2 separate regions of the Homo sapiens genome follow, and region 1 is linked to region 2. Evidence: fine-mapped expression QTL. A gene starts in region 2. The other region holds a variant in brackets. All regions are shown on one strand. Distances are between the middles of the regions.

The links. PIP is the estimated chance that this variant, and not a neighbour inherited with it, causes the effect.
Region 1: its variant is the best candidate, but not a certain one, in a credible set for the expression of PAQR8 in putamen (GTEx, PIP 0.64).

Annotation. Positions count from the first base shown.
Region 1 is chr6:52,496,067-52,498,975 of GRCh38, reverse strand. It overlaps EFHC1 (EF-hand domain containing 1), which reads right to left. Exons shown (of 11, transcript NM_018100.4): 11 at 1,778-2,909. TRAM2 (translocation associated membrane protein 2) reads left to right here. Exons shown (of 11, transcript NM_012288.4): 11 at 1-1,568. Among named protein-coding and RNA genes, the nearest start is that of EFHC1, 77 kb to the right of the region's middle. RefSeq lists a silencer at 961-1,162. The variant G/A (reference allele first, on the strand shown) is at 1,739.
Region 2 is chr6:52,360,671-52,363,579 of GRCh38, reverse strand. PAQR8 (progestin and adipoQ receptor family member 8) reads right to left here and starts at 1,429. Exons shown (of 2, transcript NM_133367.5): 1 at 1,331-1,429. RefSeq lists silencers at 1,177-1,666, 1,840-2,025.

The DNA.
Region 1 (2,909 bases), 140 kb before region 2:
ATTTGCAGTCTCCATGTAGCCTTTCGTGCTTGGCAACCCCTGTAGACTTTTTGTCCCAAGCAGATTGCGTGCGTGCGCCTGTGTGTGAGAATAAGTGCCTTACTTTGCTGTGTGGTTTTCAACTTGTACTCCGTGGCCAGCCCCCAGTTGCCAGGGCTCGACGGCAGCCAAGGACACCATACCTCAGTATAGTTATATATAAAAGGGACACGGATTGTGACAGTTTCACCCCATTTGTTTCTAACCCCGCTGCCCAGGATTAGGGTCTGTGGTGTGTTCTGTTTTGTTTTTGGTTTCTCCCTTGTGTCAGTTCTCTTCTGGCCCAGCTGGGTGGCTGTGGAAGTCTGTGAGGTGGCCCAACCACAAGCATACCTATTAAGAGAAGCCCAGAGCTTCCAGCCCCCACTTCGAAAACTCTCCTCTGGCCCCACATAGCAAACTCCTTCTCCGTTATTTTCCCCACCCCCAGATTTTTTTTAAAAGGCCCACTTGCCGTAACCTCTTTTGGTCTATTTTGCTTCCCATTCAGCCCAAAGTTTATATGATAAAGGTGTTTACTTTTACTTCCCAGTCTCCAAGTGCTAACACATAAACACATACATGTCTGACTGTTGCAGAACTGTTCGAGCTCCTAATTCAGTGTTACCTTGTTTTAGTCGCAGCAACCCTCTCCCCTACCCCTTGCCCGCCCACGTTTTTCTCACTCTTCCGGGTTGTGCAATAACTCTCCCAGCCAGTGGTCCTTTCCACAGCCTTTCTGTCCCTTAAAACACCTGCAACTGGGGGAGAAATGGGACCCATGGGAGGGGGAGTCGTCATCCCTTACACAAGAAATAGCCACTTTCCTTTTGTTGTCATTCTTGTGATCCTGGGTGGGTTTCTGTGGCACTCTTTTAGAACATGTAGCATCATCTTAGAGGTCTATTTTTAAAAAATGTGTTGAAGAGGAAAAAACCATTCTCACGATGGGGCTTAAGTCATTGTCCAGGAATAAGATTGGCGTGGTGCCCATGACATCACCGTCACTCTGCCTAAAAGCACTCTAGAGCTACTTGTTCACGTGGAGAGGAAGGATATTTTGCGAAGCAACAGCCGCAGGTGGAGAGCCCTGTTCACCTGATAGGGTCTAGCTGTGACAGTAAATATAATACCGCTGTTTCCTTGGGTACAGATTTGAGTGTTCATGTGATGAGACTGTAAACCTCATTTTTCGGTTCCTCTGTTTAAAAAAACATCTGAAGGATGAACTAAGGCTGCTGGTGCCCTGAGCAACTGATAATGCAAATGTGGACAAAGTGTCTGTTTTCTACTCTAGCCTGTTCATATGGACCAAATTTCAACAAGGAACTCAAGGAAAATTTGTACCTGCCGTATTTATGCTTTCATGTAAAAAAGGGTTGGGGGGAGGGGTGTCTTTTTGCTTTTGGTGAACTTTTTTTCAAAATCATTTTTCCACTGTTTCTGTCTGGTTTTAAAACAAATTACAGTTTTGTATGGATTTTTTAAATGTACATTTTGGAACAAATGATCAAATATTTTCTGAAATAACAATAAAAGGCAGAAAATTATCAGAATTGTCTCATAATTATTTCCTTGACGTGCTTTTATACAGTGATGCTTTTAACGTGGATGTTTACGTTTGCTTAAAGGAGTTTGCAATGAATTTTAGCCCTCATGTCTATTATTTTTCACTATATTAGTCATTTCTTATATATTTTGACCCGTATTTGTCCATTGT[G/A]ATATGAATTAGGGAATTAAGGATGGAGAGTCAGTTATGTCAAGTGCTGGATAGCAATAAGCATCATTTTTATTTGACTCTTTAATAGTAAAGTGGAAAAGAGGTTTTCTTAACATGGGGTTTGTGGGTAGGAAGCTCCAGAAACAAGCACATCATCCTTGATGCCTACTATACTATGATGTTATTTAGCTTGGAGGAAATGGGGTTTCGTTTGTGTAAAGGCCAACAAATATGTTGGTGCTGACTAGAAGACATCCAAGTATTAGTAATAGTGGGGATTGCTGGTGTCACTTACATGGCTGCTGTTGGCTGTAGCTGCTTGCTGTGTTTACCAGAACCATCTTTCTTTGGAAAAAGATCTCAAAAGATGAGTGCAGTTACAGGTGGCAGTTAGTCAAGGACACCCATGGGGTGTGAGAAAGAGGAAATGTTTGCTTGAGGTGAAGGTGAGTGGTTCTGATGCATGGCAAGCTTCATTGTAGAGTTGGGTCCTGCTCTGCCATGAGAAGCTAGGTGAACTCAAGCAGTTAACCCTTCCGAGTCTTTTTGTGCATCTGTGTCAAAAGGGTTTCATGTTTTGTGGGGAGTCATGGTGAGAGATTTAGAGATACTGAATGCTAAGTTCATGGTACATATAAAGCACTCATATTGGCTTTTTAAAATGAACTTATGTGCCAGCAGGATACTCAGGAGTCACTTAACCAAGTGGATTCTCTGGACAACATTTAGAGACGTCTTCTCTACCTATGTGTCCCAAATACCCTCAAAGCCTATAGATATGGATTTGATACACCTTAATTGGATGGTATTTTCAAGGCCCCCTGATGGTGCAGACAAGGTACAGGCCCAGGTTTCTGAGTAGTGGCTAACTCACAGCCCATCTTTACCCGCAAGGCAGATTTTTATTAGTCCCAAAGCCGTAAGCACTATAAGCAGTCTTAGTCAAATGCTTCAGTTAGACCTGATAGCTTCAGCTACCAGTGCTAATCTTAATAATTCTCATTCTCTCTTTGTGTGTGTGTGTGTGTGGGTGTGTGTGTGTATTAGAATCTTTCAACTCCCTGGTGGCCAGTTTGAAGTGATGATCATTTCTGCTTCCTACAATATTGCTTGCTACAGGGTAATGCTCAGCTCCCTTCCACCACCTGAACCTGACACTCCAGATGCATGC
Region 2 (2,909 bases):
TGTATTTGTTGTGGATTTTCCTCGTTTTTACCCAGAAACAGCTTCTCAGAGTACTGGAACAAGTAGTACACACGTGGGTCTAAAAATCACACATACAGTGTATTGTATGAGTTATCCCTAAGGCGCGCACACACACGGGTAGGTATTACCTGTACATTTGAAATCTCACTCCATAACTAATTTTTTTAGCCCAGGCTCTTCTCATTGGGTTCCTGGACAAAATCATTTCTAACCCAGCTAAGAAATATGGAATGCAACTTAGGTCAAGACAATGAGCCTGCCAAGGCTCCTGGACTTCCCACTAGTCTGCCAGTGCCTGGAGCACCCACAGCTGCACAGGAAGCTGCTGTGCCCGGCTACCTCCAGGTCCCCGCACCGGGTCGGCAAGGTGCAGCAGCCCCCAAACCCAGGCTCCGAATATTCCCCAAGCGCGCTGAGTGCGAGGTCCCCACCCGCCTCCGTCTGGGGATGCCCGGTCTTGCTCCCTAGACTAGATTCCCTCTCGAGTTATCTACGACCCTGTTCCACCGAGGGCGCTGCGTTCTCATAGCCTAGACAGACGTTCCCAGCGTTCCAGCCCCACCAGCCACCTCCGACACCCCACCGCGGCGTTCCCATCCAGCCAAGCCCCAGCATCCGCCCATTAGCCAGCTGCCGGCGGTTCCCATCACAACTCCGCTCCTCGCGCCCACCCTCTCAGAGAAGCCCCCTCCATCTTTCCCCGGCGAAAGCACATGCCTAGACCCACCCTACTCTTTCCGGGGTTCCCCTACCTCGGGCTGCCCTTCCTCGGGCTCTCCCTACCGCCCCGGGCTTCCTCTCCTCCGCACTCCCCTCCCAGGTTCCGTTCCCCTCCGCCCTGCGGAGGGCGCCCCACAAATGCGGACAGGACGCCCCTCGTTCTGCCCTGTCGGACTCCCCCACGTCTTGGTCCTGAATCTCCCGCCCTCCGGGCTCAGCCTTCCCAACATCGCGGTCCCCACACCCCCGCCAGCTCTCCAGGCTCAGGCTCCATGACTCCCCAGCATCGCAGTCCTGGCCACCCCACTACAGCCGTTCAGAGCTCCAGGGCTCCCCAGCATCCTAACCCGTCGTCCCCCCTTCCGGGCTTGGATTCGGAGACTCAACATCGGGGCCCTAAACTCCGGCCCCTGGCCTCAGGTTCCCAACGCTGCGACTCTGGACCTCCCCTCTGAGCTCGGGGTGCGAGGACTCCCCAACGCCGCGATCCTGACGTCCCCGCCTCCCGAGCTCGGGCCCCGGGGCTCCCCGACCTCGCGGTCCCAATACCCAACTCGACCCGTTCCGCGCCTCCCGCGGCGGGACTCACCGGCAGGGGCGGCGGCCGAGCCCGTGCGCGTAGCCCAGCCCGGCCCAGCCCGCGCTCCCGCCTCGGGGTCCCGGCCACGAGCTTCCCGCGGGTGGCTGTGACCGCGGCGGGCTCGGCTCGGGGGAGCGGCCGGGAGGAGGAGACCGCCGGGGGCGGGTGACGCCCAGCTCCGCCCCTTCCCGACCCGGGGGCGGGATGCGCAGACCCGCGCGCTCCGCTGCAGCCCGCGCCGCTGCCGCCGCTGCGAGGAAGTTGACTGACGCCGCTTCCTTCCACCCAGGACGCAGACCCTCGCAGTCCCTGGTAGCTGCAAAAAATCCGGAGAGTTTGAGACAGAGACGCCTTAACCGCCCTCATATTCTTTCCAAGAATTCACCTCTCAGGGGGCCATTTCCGAAGTCCCTCGGGAAGGGCGGAAAACAATAACAAACTTCATCTGCGCTGTCAAGACTGATTTAAATCCTGGCCTTTCTCTCACCACTCTCGGGTGAACGTTCAGGGTCATGCCCATGATATAAATAATGTGATGACATACCACGGAGGCCCTTGCAGACACTTCCACACCCCTAAGATACACCCGCCCAAGACTCGCGCCTCTCCCATGACTACATCACACAGACACATCTGACACTGACCTGCAGAAGATCCCACTTCTACCCTGTGTCCTCAATCCACAGCCTTCGTGGGTCCCAGCAATAGCGACCCACACATACAATCTATTGGAGGCAGGGTGCGGGGGTGGGTTCCACCTCCCGACTTGCTCCTCACCCACAATGTTCTCGGTATTTTACCATGAGAAAAAGACAGTTAAGAAGTTGGATGATCAATTAACAAATCAAGTTGGCTTTGCTTTTAAAAAGCCTTCTTCATTATCTGGAGAAAAGAGAAGGCCTGGGAAGATGGCCTGCTTACTGTAAGATTTTGTCAGACAGGCCTAATTCTGGTCTGCTTACTGTAAGATTTTCTCAGACGGCCTAATTCTGGTCTGCTTACTGTAAGATTTTCTCAGGCCTAATTCTGGTCTGCTGGTTCCCAAAACTTCTCTTATACCACCGTGTTTCAGTGACATGTTGCACAACATCTCACATTTGTACAATGTTTCCATTTTTCAAAACATTTTAGCCGAGTGTGATGGTTCACACCTGTAATCCCAGAACTTTGGGAAGCCAAAGTGGGCAGATTGCTTAAGCCCAGGAGTTCGAGACCAGCCTGGGTAACAAGGTGAGACCCTGTCTCTGCAAAAAATACAAAAATTAGATGGGCGTGGTGGCACACGCCTGTAGTCCCAGCTACTTATTCTCAGGCAAACATCACGAAGCAAAGAAAGTAATCTTAGCAGGATTATTTCAGTTCCATAAATGAAGACATTTAGACTCTGAGCAGTTGCACGGCAGGTTTGAAGCTGAGTCAGAGCCAGGAAAGAGCCCAGGGGCCTGTCTTTAGAGCCACTGATCTCCCCAGGGAATCATAGTCCAGCACTTACTTATAGGTGGATACTAGTGGAAATGTCACAGGAGGTCTTTGGCAGCTTTGCTCCCTCCATCTCTTCTTCACCCCAAAGATGTCAGGGAACTCTCCC